2 separate regions of the Homo sapiens genome follow, and region 2 is linked to region 1. The links come from fine-mapping of genetic effects on gene expression. Tissue or cell type: whole blood. Region 1 holds a variant in brackets; the other region holds the start of a gene. All regions are shown on one strand. Distances are between the middles of the regions.

The links. PIP is the estimated chance that this variant, and not a neighbour inherited with it, causes the effect.
Region 2: it holds the start of NUDT16L1, and the variant in region 1 is fine-mapped to the expression of NUDT16L1 in whole blood (TOPMed, PIP above 0.99).

Annotation. Positions count from the first base shown.
Region 1 is chr16:4,668,254-4,674,182 of GRCh38, forward strand. It overlaps MGRN1 (mahogunin ring finger 1), which reads left to right. Exons shown (of 17, transcript NM_015246.4): 8 at 12-59; 9 at 3,138-3,206; 10 at 5,245-5,404. It overlaps MIR6769A (microRNA 6769a), which reads left to right and starts at 3,065; the gene lies at 3,065-3,137. RefSeq lists enhancers at 4,815-5,404, 5,405-5,929. The variant CCAGGTCCCTG/C (reference allele first, on the strand shown) is at 2,490.
Region 2 is chr16:4,690,661-4,696,050 of GRCh38, forward strand. NUDT16L1 (nudix hydrolase 16 like 1) reads left to right here and starts at 2,902. Exons shown (of 3, transcript NM_032349.4): 1 at 2,902-3,219; 2 at 3,318-3,578; 3 at 4,298-5,184. The coding sequence starts at 3,067. The coding sequence ends at 4,519. It overlaps MGRN1 (mahogunin ring finger 1), which reads left to right. Exons shown (of 17, transcript NM_015246.4): 17 at 1-312. RefSeq lists silencers at 1-90, 2,753-3,112, 3,223-3,722 and enhancers at 2,473-2,562, 2,814-3,321, 3,322-3,829, 4,432-4,932.

The DNA of each region.
Region 1 (5,929 bases):
CTCCCCTGCAGCACATGGACGGCAGCTTCTCTGTGAAGCCTTTAAAGCAGAAGCAAATTGTAAGTCATCAGAGGAAATATGACGTGCTTGAATTAAAAGACACACATATACAATCACTCACACGCATACTCATACATAGACACACACTCATACACACGCACATATACTCATACACGCTCATACACACTCATACACATTCACTTGCACATATATACGGACACACATACATACCATCAGACACTCACATTCACACATATATAGACACATAAACACACAGACACACACATACACACATAAACACACTCCTACTCGCACACACTCATACAGACACGACACTCATACACACATACACTCACACTCACATGCAGTCATTCAGATGCACACACTCAGACACACTCATATACTCAGTCACACACATATACATAGACACACTCGTACACATACACACATACACTCACACTCACTCACATATACATAGACACATACTGATACACACACATATACCCATTCACACACACATAGACATTCATACACATATACACATACACACACGTATACAGACACACACTCATACACATACCCACACATATACTCACACACATAAACTCACATGTATACTCATACACATATACATAGACACACATTCACTCGCACACATATACAGACATACATACACACAATCACTTGCACACATATACATAGACACACTCATACAATCACTCACGCACATATACAAAGACGCATACACTCACATAGACACACACACATACACATATGTACAGACACACATATACTCACACACACTTATATATAGACACACACACACACTCTTCAGTAGTCTTCATGCACTGGTCTTCCTAGGCTACCCTTGCTGCTGCCTTTGAAATAACTGTGCAGGGGCTGGGCGCAGTGGCTAACGCCTGTAATCCCAGCACTTCGGGAGGCCGAGGTGGGCAGATCACTTGAGCCCAGGAGTTTGATATCAGCTTGGCCAACATGGTGAGACCCCGTCTCTACTAAAAATAAAAAAATTAACCGGGTATAATAACACATGCCTGTAATCTCAGCAACTCAGGAGGATGAGGTAGGAGAATGGCTTGAACCCAGGAGGTGGAGGTTGCAGTGAGCCGAGATCATGCCACTGCACTCCAGCCTGGGTGACAGAGGAAGACTGTGTCAAAAAAAAAAAAAAAAAGCTGTGCAACAGCCTGTTGACTTCCCTGTAGAGCTCTAAGCTCTGGGACGACGGGTCCCTGTCTTGGGTGAGCATATATGTTTTGCGTGCCCGCCATGTACAGGGACGCCTGCAGGCCCTGAGTTCTGTCCAGTTTGAGCCATTGTGTCTGGAACATAGTGTTAAGTAAATATTTGCCGAATGGATGGATGGAAAAGGAAGGAAAGAGACCAGAAACAAAGTCTGCAACTCCTTCTCCTCTTCCTTACAAATTGTCCAATATGTCAGTATTGGACAGAGACTTAGCTTGACTTCATCAATACTTGAAAAGAAGGATTAAATAGTTGAGAATAAATGGAGCTATAGAGCAGTACATCTGTTCTCTGGGGTCAGCGATCCTGGGATGCTGCATTGGGAAGTGTTATTCCTGGTGGCCTCACAAGTAGGCACCGAGAATTTAGAGGATGGGGTGCCCTAAACAGCAGTGTTAGATCTTGCTAATGAGATGTCCTAGGCCACAGCTAACAGTTACTCCGTGTGTACTGTTGGGGCGCATAAGACCTGTTTCAAGCCACCACTTGGGAATGATTTTTGTTAGTTTTTAATTTTTTAAATATTTAATTTAATTTTAATTTTAATTTTATTTTATTGAGACAAGACAGAGTCTCGCTCTGTTGCCCAGGCTGGAATGCAGTGGCGCGATCTCAGCTCACTTCAACCTCTGTCTCCCAGGTTCAAGTGATTTCTCGTTCAGGCTCCCAAGTAGCTGGGACTGCAGGTGTGCGCCACCACAGTTGGTTAATTTGTTTTGTTTTATTTTGTTTTGTATTTTTGAGATGGAGTCTCACTCTGTCGCCGAGGCTGGAGTGCAGTGGCATGATCCCAGCTTACTGTAGCCTCCACCTCCTGGGTTCAAGTGATTCTTCTGCCTCAGCATCCCGAGTAGCTGGGACTACAGGCACGCGCCACCATGCCTGGCTAATTTTTGTATTTTTTGTAGAGATGAGGTTTTGCCATGTTGGCCAAGCTGGTCTCAAACTTTTGGGCTCAAGTGATCCACCAGCCTCGGCCTCCTACTAAAGTGCTGGGATGATAGGTGTAAGCCACTGCACCCGGCCATCTGTTAGCTTTTTAGAAGAGAGTTTGTCCAGGTGCAGTGGCTTATGCCTATGATCCCAGCACTATGGGAGGTGGAGGCAGGAGGATTGCTTGAGCCTGGGGATTCCAGACCAGCCTGGGCAATGTAGCGAGATCCTGTCTATTTAAAATGTAAATCACAATAAACAAAAGAGAGGTGCAGCAAACTCTAGCAGGT[CCAGGTCCCTG/C]CAGGTACCAGGGGAACAGGAGACCCCAGTGATGGTCAGGGCCTTGTGTTGAGAGAGCTGACCAGCAGGCCCTGGGCTCCCTGGAGTGGTGCTCCTGGCCCATGGTCTCTGGGAAACCCAGCAGCACAAACCGCTTTGCAATGTGGTCAGCGTGAGGCTTTTTGGTTGCAAGTGGGTGGCAGGACAGAATCAGCTTGGAGACATTGCTTTGGCGTCTTTGAAACCAGAGAGGCTTCATGCCTTTTGGAAGGAGGATCTGGAAAGCAGTGGGAACTTAGGCTGCTGTCTGGTGCCTTCAGGCGTCAGCTCCTGCTTTCCTCGTGGGGCTGGTGGTGGTGGAGCCAAGTGGTGTTGGGGGTGGTGAGGCGGTCAGGGGGTGGTGGTTGGGCCTGTGGGTTGGCTTCAGGCCCCCAGTAGTGGGGAGAGCCACCGGCTCCAGCCCTGTTCCAGGTGCTGCTGGTTGGGTGGGGGCAAGCAGCAGGTTTTCCCTGCCCTTCTCCTGGCCCCCAGGGGTTGAGCTGGACTGACCCCTGGTATGGAAGCCTGGTAAGTTGGAGGCAGGGCTAGGCCAGGTGGGTATGGAGGAGCCCTCATATGGCAGTTGGCGAGGGCCCAGTGAGCCCCTCTCTGCTCTCCAGGTGGACCGGGTCAGCTACCTCCTGCAGGAGATCTATGGCATTGAGAACAAGAACAACCAGGAGACCAAGGTGTGTATCTGGGTGAGGTTTCCCTCTGCCATTACAGAAGCCCACACCAGGAGCAGCCGCGGACAGCAATGCTTGCCGGTTCCCTTCCATGCCTTCCCCTGGAGTCCTAGACCCGCTAGACAACATCATTTTTCCTTAATTTTTTTTAAAGCTAACAGTTTAGGGAACATTTTATCCTTTCTCCAGCAAATTCACTAGCTTCTGATGTAAATTGCCATCCAGGTTCCCCAGGGCAGCCCAGGAATGGGGGCCAGTGTCTCACCCTCTAGGCTCAGGTGTGTGGCACCCTGCTGCCCGGCTCCTGCCCGCCTCCCCAGAGACAGCACGTCCCTGCAGCTCCTGGGGGAGGGATGCTTATTCTGTATGTCCATAGAACCAGTCCTGGTGCCTGACAAATAAGCCGTGGTGTACCCCAGTCAGGGAATGTAGCAGGGGATGAAATTAGTTTTTTTTGTTTTTGTTTTTTGAGTCAGTCTCACTCTGCTGCTCAGGCTGTAATGCAGCAGGGAGATCTTGGCTCACTGTGGCCTCCGCCTCCCGGGTTCAAGCGATTCTCCTGCCTCAGCCTCCTGAGTAGCTGGGACCACAGGCACGCGCCACCACACCCGGCTAATTTTTTGTATTTTAGTAGCGACGGGGTTTCACCATGTTGGCCAGGATGGTCTTGATCTCCTGACCTTGTGATCCACCCTCCTCGGCCTCCCAAAGTGCTGGGATTACAGGCGTGAACCACCGCGCCCAGCCTAATTTTTAATTTTTGTATTTTTAGTAGAGATGGGGTTTCACTATGTTGGCCAGGCTGGTCTCAAACTTCTGATCTCAAGTGATCTGCCTGCCTCAGCCTCCCAAAGTGCTGGGATTTCAGGCCTGAGACCACCACGCCTGGTCGATGAACTTGTTAAAAGGCACACTGACATGAGTGAAACTCCTGCCTCTTAAGATCTCTTGGAAAGTCTCACAGGCCCGCTTCATTATGGCATCTGGGCCCAGGACAACTGGAGCAGCTCCACGTGGCGGGAGCGGAGCACCTGGCCGGGCCTCGCCTCAACCCAGGGAAGTCAGTGCATTCATGTTTCATACCAGGGGGCGGCCCACTTTGAGAAAAGGTTCAGAGAGGGAATGTTTTCAGCCGCCCGGGCATATGGTCTCTGTTGCACTGACTCCACGCTGCCATTACAACAGGAGCAGCGGGGACTGTATAAAAATGAGTGGGTGTGGCGGTGTTCCAGTAAGATTTTATTTATAGAAACAGGCCACAGGCCTAGTTTGTGGACACCTGTTTTAGATTTTTGGCTTTCTTTTTGTCCAGTTGCTAATGTGGTTTCTGGTAGCTGCCATTAATGAAAATACTTCTAACATATTAACTTGTTTTTTGTTTTTTTTGTTTGTTTGTTTTGAGATGGAGTCTTGCTCTGTTGCCCAGGCTGGAGTGCAGTGGCAGCCATCTTGGCCCACTGCAAGCTCCGCCTCCTGGGTTCACGCCATTCTCCTGCCTCAGCCTCCTGAGTAGCTGGAACTACAAGCACGTGCCACCATGCCCGGCTAATTTTTTGTATTTTTAGTAGAGACGGGGTTTCACTATGTTAGCCAGGATGGTCTCGATCTCCTGACCTCGTGATCTGCCCGCCTCAGCCTCCCAAAGTGCTGGGATTACAGGCGTGAGCCACCGCGCCTGACCATTAACTTGGTTTTTTTTAAACCAAAGATAACGGGTACCCTGACCCTCAGGAAGATGTGTTTCTTAGGTGCATCTGTTCCTCATTTTTTCTTTAGGTCTGAAGAACAGAAAGAGACCATGTTCTCATGATTTGGGTGGGTGAGGGGCACAGACCCTCCCCCTCTGCCAGGTGCTGAGTTTGCACTGGATTTGAGCCTGGTGATTCTGCTCTGGGGCAACCTCCCCCTCCCCTCTGGACTTCTCTTTGTCATGACAGCCCCCAGGGTAGGGTGGAGTGGGGTGGGACAGCTGGGGACAGGAAGCAGGAGCCGTACTCTGGCCTTTGGGAGGCTGCTGACCCACAAGCCCTTGTCCCGGCAGCCCTCGGACGACGAGAACAGCGACAACAGCAACGAGTGTGTGGTGTGCCTGTCCGACCTGCGGGACACGCTGATCCTGCCCTGCCGCCACCTGTGCCTCTGTACCTCCTGCGCCGACACGCTGCGCTACCAGGCCAACAACTGCCCCATCTGCCGGCTGCGTGAGTTCCCCGGCCGGCTGTTCTGTGGAAGGTTCTGGAAATTAGGGACTGGCCACACCACGGTGGTCCTGGGATAGGGGGCCACAGGTCCGTTGATGGCTAAGAAAGAAGAGTTGTCATTCATCTAGTCTGTGCTGAACGTGGGCGTGTTGGCTGTCGGAGTCAGTCACCGTGAGAGAGCTGGCAGGGACGCTAGCACGGGGCATTCAGATCTTCACGTCTGCCTCCAGCCAGGCAAGGCTTGCAGAACAAAGGGCTACAGAGGCGCTCCAGGGCAGATGAACTGAACGAAAATTGATGAGTGAATGAAATCTTTATTCTTATTTTATTTTTATTATTTTTTGTTTGAGACAGTTTCGTGCTGTCGCCCAGGCTGGAGTTCAGTAGCGAGTTCTCAGCTTACTGTAACCTCTGCCTCCTGAGTTCAAGCAATTCTCCTGTCTCAGCCTCCCTAGTAGCTGGGATTGCAGGCAACTGCCACCATGGCCAGCTAATATTTTACTTTTATTAGAGATGGGGTTTTGC
Region 2 (5,390 bases), 22 kb after region 1:
CCTGCACATGTTCCCATGCATGTGTGTGCACTCGGACCGAGCATCTCCCACGCACCTCTACCCCACCCCAAGCACCTCTCTCCCCCCATGCACCTCTCCCCAACAACACACACAGCCCCCTGCACCGCCCGCCCCCCGCCCCCACCAAGGCCCCAGCCTCTGGCCATCAGTCCTGGTGCCAGAGCTTTGCGTGAAGTTCGGGCCGCAGAGTGGCCCGCTGGGACTCCCATGTGCTGCCGTCTGATGTGCTCAGATGGGCTCATCGTTGGTTCGTTTTTACTGTATATTTATAGTAATAAAATCATGCAGCAATATCCTGTCTGCTCCTTCCTCCGGGTGCAGCCCTCAGGATTGTGGCTGTTTCCTGACCCGGAGTTTTGCCGCTGGGTGGTTGGCGGTGGCTCCCGCACCGTGGCAGCTCCACGGCCTCTGCCTGGCTTCCCTCTGGGGTCAGGGCAGTGAGCAAGGTGAGGGCTAACGAGAACGGGCAGCTCCCAGCCATCCCTGTCAGGGCTAGTTGTCTGGTTGGAGGGAAGCCACACCCTCCAGATTGGGCTCTCTCGTGAACAGGTGGTTGGGGAGCCCAGGGCCTCCAGGTTTGTGAGTAGTCGCTCCGGTCCCCATCTCTAGTCCTGATCATCTCAAGGCATTTGCTGAGCACCTGCTGTGCGTCAGTGGAGGCAGAAGAGCTGAGGCCCCGGCCCTGGCCCCGGGCGCCTGCCTTCCAGGCAGTGAGATGCCCAGCAGCTAATCAGAATCCTGCCAGGTTTGGTTACTATTAGGAAGAAAGTCAGCATGGTGGTGAGATGAACCCGTACAAGGTCTCATTTAACCGGGTGGCAGGGAGGGCCTCTCTGAGGAGACTTAAACAGCCCTGAGGGCTGAGGAGGAGCTGGCCCTGGAAGAGTGTTCCAGGTGGCAGGAGTGAGCCTGATGTGTCCCCTGGGGACGGAGCCCCTGGCTGGAGTGAAGGGTGCTGGATAGATACTGAAGAGCTTGTAGGGGCTGCTGGAGTGTTTTTATAAGGGGGAGTCAGTTTTAAAAACAGGCTTCCAAGCGGAGAAGCAGTGCTAGCACCCTGCGGCTGGCGTGTGGAGGCCGGACGGTGGGAGCAGGTCTAGCTGCCCATGGTTGTGGGCTCGCAGGCTGGAGCCCGGCCCCAGGCCTCTGCACAGCCCCCGCTCCCCTGCCCAGGGAGTGGCCAGTGCCCCAGGGCACCCACCACACCACTGCCTACCACTCAGGGCCCCAGCTCCTTTGCGTGCAGGTCAAGCTGCCACCATGGCCCTTCTTTGAAGACTGTGAGGGTGGAGGGAAAGCCCGTGTTCTAGCCCATCAGTCCCTGCCCCGAGAAGGCTGCCACCCATGGGCCCTGCAGCTGCTCTGACCTGCCTGGGTCTGGCCCCATCCCAGTGTGGGTAGAGGGGTGCCCAGGGTGTCAGACGGGTGCTTGCATGGGCCAGATGGGCTCCCCCTCTGTACCTCCCAGAAGAGCCAGCGCTTGTATTGATGTCTGGTCTCGGGGAGGGGCTGCAGCAAGGGGAGCCTCTCCTCCTCTGCCCCTGCGTCCCACGGGCCCTGGGCGCTGGCTGGGCTTGGCTGCCTAGGGGTGGGGCCCTCTTTGGGTGAGAGGACCCTTCCCCTCGCTGCCCTCTCGCCTTCTCACATGGTCGCTCACTCTGGAATCTGGACTTCCCCTGCTGCTTGCAGCTGTCCCATGTGACCCCTGACCCACTGGTGGCCACAGGAGGAGAGAGAGGTGCCCTCTCTGGGTCCTTATTCTCCACATCTGAGGCCACCACGGACCTAACAGGTGAGTTTCCAATGCCCACCCTCTCCCTCTCTCTTCTCCTGCCTGCCTCCACTGAAGGCAGCCTTCTCTGTGCCAGCGAGCTCGGCCTCACTGCACGGCTCTCCCGAGGCTGTGCCCCAGCCCTGGGCACCCATGCTGTGAGTGCAGGCAGGGGGGTTCATGTGCTCAGCAAATCCATTCCCCTGGTGGGGAGGAAAGTGGCCCTGGGCCCTGCTGCTGGTGAGGTGAGCCTTGCCATCATGGAGTTCAGGGCACCTCGCTCTGCCTTGGGCTGTTTCGGATGCTTCTGAGCCCCAGAGACATCTCCAGTACAAACACAAGGTAAGTGGTAAGTACCTCAGGCCCTTGTGGAATCGGGATTCTGCCTCTGTCATCAACTGCCAGTTGTACTTAGGCAAGTTATGTCCCTCTCTGAGCTCCAAGTTCCTCATCGTAAATTGGGGAAACCCCTCTTCCCCCCACAGTACCTGGCACAGGGTGCCCGGCTTGGAGGATGCTGGAAAGGTCCAGCCCCGGAATTTAAGTCACTTTCTGCCCAGCAAGCTGGGTCCACAGAGCCCCAGAGCTCCCGGTCGTCCGCCCTGACCCAGCGTGGACTCGGGGACTGGGGCACTCAAGCCCTGCCAAGCCCTGCTCCCCGTGCTGTCCTGGATCGAGCCTGCCAGCAGGGTGGCTAGGTCGGGACAGCTGTCGTGCATGGCAGGCGAAGGCCATCTCCCTCCGGGCTTGGGTCCGGTGGCGCTGGCGGAGCAAGGCTCCGGGGCATCTCTGGCTCGTGTGGTCGTGCCAAGGGTGCCATTGCGGATGGACGGGGCCATGCGGGCCGGGTCGGCCTCCTGGGGAGAAACGGGTGGGCGCAAGGGGATCGGCGCCATCGAGGGTGGAGAAACCGCAGGGAATTTCGGCTGTCCGCTTTGGGGCGCCAAGGAAGATGTTCGTCGCCCACAATGTCAACCTTGAGCCACCACGGCACCGACCAGTCGTCTAGGCTCTCCCGTCGGAGGCGGGGCCGCCGCCCAGGGTGTGCGACTATTGGGTGACGGCTGACGCGCACCGCCCTCCTTTGCACACCGCCCGCAGCACCTCTCGACGACGCACCGCGGCGCTGCGAGGGGCTCGGTCCCGGGGCGCGCCGGCGATTGGCGGGGGAACCGGACCCGGGGGCGCGGCCGCCCGCGGATTGGCGAGGCACGGCGGGGGCGGGCTCGCGCATGCTCTTAAGTGGCAGCGGCGGGGACGGGGTCAGTGCCAAGATGTCGACGGCGGCGGTTCCGGAGCTGAAGCAGATCAGCCGGGTGGAGGCGATGCGCCTAGGGCCGGGCTGGAGCCACTCGTGCCACGCCATGCTGTACGCCGCCAACCCTGGGCAGCTCTTCGGCCGCATCCCCATGCGCTTCTCGGTGCTGGTGAGGACGGGCGAGGGCGCGGGCGAGGGTGCCGGCGCGGGCGGGCCCGGGCGGGGGCGTCCGTCGACCCCGCGGCTGTGACCCGCGCTCCCTTGCAGATGCAGATGCGTTTCGACGGGCTGCTGGGCTTCCCCGGGGGCTTCGTGGACCGGCGCTTCTGGTCGCTGGAGGACGGCCTGAACCGGGTGCTGGGCCTGGGCCTGGGCTGCCTGCGCCTCACCGAGGCCGACTACCTGAGCTCGCACCTGACCGAGGGCCCACACCGCGTCGTGGCGCACCTGTACGCGCGGCAGCTGACGCTGGAGCAGCTGCACGCCGTGGAGATCAGCGCGGTGCACTCGCGCGACCACGGCCTGGAGGTGGGGCCGCCGCCCGGGCCCCGCCCCCCGCCCCGGGGTTTGGCTCTGGCCCCGTGGAAGGCACCGATGGGTAACACGTCTCCTGAGGGTCCCCTGGCCGGGCTGGGTCGGGTGTCGCTGTCTCCAGCAATGGGGTGGGGAGAGGGGTCTGGGGCTGGGAGGCCGGGAAAGGAGGGGCGGGGGTGGGGGCCGGCGCTGGGGCTCCCTCAGGGCTGTGTTACATCCGCCTTGCTGCCTGCCATTGCCAATCCTGGGAGTGGGGGAGTGGGATCGGTGGGGAGGAAGGGATGGGGGAGGAGCGGGGATTGCTTGGGGAGTTGGGAAACTTGAGCACAGCGGGGGTTGTAAAACTTGGGAACCTCATGTTGGGCGTGAAGGCTCTTGGGATTTGTACTTTGTGGTCTGGAAGGGCTGGACTGCGGGTGTTCAGGCTTCGTTGGGTGGACGGGGGGAGCATGGGGTGCGGACCCCGGGGTGGGGTGGCCTGGGTACGAGGGGGGGGAGTGCATGGGGTCAGCCTCCACACTTGCTTGGGGAGGAGGGGGCTGCACTGCTCCGAGGGAGCTGGCTGGCTTCTGCCAGGCCCTGCGTGGGTCTCCCATTAAGTCCTTGGCAAAGCTGGCTGCTCATACCCTGGCCTCATAGCTTCCAGGCCCCTCCTGCTGGAGGTGCCATTGTGTGGCAGGCCTGGCCCCAACCCCTACCTCCTGTCTGCGCAGGTGCTGGGCCTCGTGCGGGTCCCGCTGTACACCCAGAAGGACCGAGTCGGAGGCTTCCCCAACTTCCTGAGCAACGCCTTCGTGAGCACGGCTAAGTGCCAGCTCCTCTTTGCCCTCAAGGTGCTCAACATGATGCCCGAGGAGAAGCTGGTTGAGGCCCTGGCTGCAGCCACCGAGAAGCAGAAGAAGGCCCTGGAGAAGTTGCTCCCGGCCTCCTCTTGAGGGCTGCCTGAGCTGGTGGCACCCTCCCCTGGGCCGGAAGACTGGGAATTCCTGCTAAGTGTGGCTTCTAGAGTGTTTGTGTGTACCCCGCTTCTGACTGCCTAGGGCGAGTGGGCATCCTGTCATCATCTCCACTGTCCCAAGCAGTCACTAGGTGGCGGCCGGGCCAGCTGGAACCCAGCCCATCCTCTCAGGCAGAGCAGGGTGGTCCGGGCACACTGGGCCTGCCTCTCCAGCCTCAGGATGCTCTTGTTTATTCTGGGCTCAGACCCTCCTCTTGTACGTCTCATCACAGCTGGTAGAGACCCAGGAGTGCCTGATTGTCCCACAGGGGTGGCGCACAGCTCTGGGACCACTCAGAAGATGGGATGTGTGGGTGGAGGATGCCTTGTCTCGGTCAGCTCATTCCTGCCTCCTTCCTGAGCCAGTTCAGGGCCTGGGGGAGAGCCAGCTTGGGGTAGGAAGTTAATAATACTGTTAATTTGGGTTGTTGTTGGATTTACTTTGCTAGATTTTCTCTTTCACCACGTGTGAACTGTGGGTGAGGTTTCAAAGTAGCTTCACCCCACGTGGCTTGGTTCCCAGGGACAGTCAGGGCCTCGGGGGCCCAGCTATGTACAACGAAGCTGTCGAAGGAGAAGACAATAAAGTCGCTCCGCAGCTGCTCTGTGTGTTTCTCAGCTGCCCTGTGTGTTTGTTTTGGTTCTGGATGGAACCAGCTCAGGCCCCCTGCCCTAGGTGGGGGAGGGAGGAGCTGCCCCAGCCAGGGGCACGTTTGTTCCCCAGTGTTTACTGGGGGCACTCCCAGCATGAATGCTGTGCCCATCAGCCAGGTTGGGGCGTCTGGGCCGAGACCTTCAGGGCAGGCTCC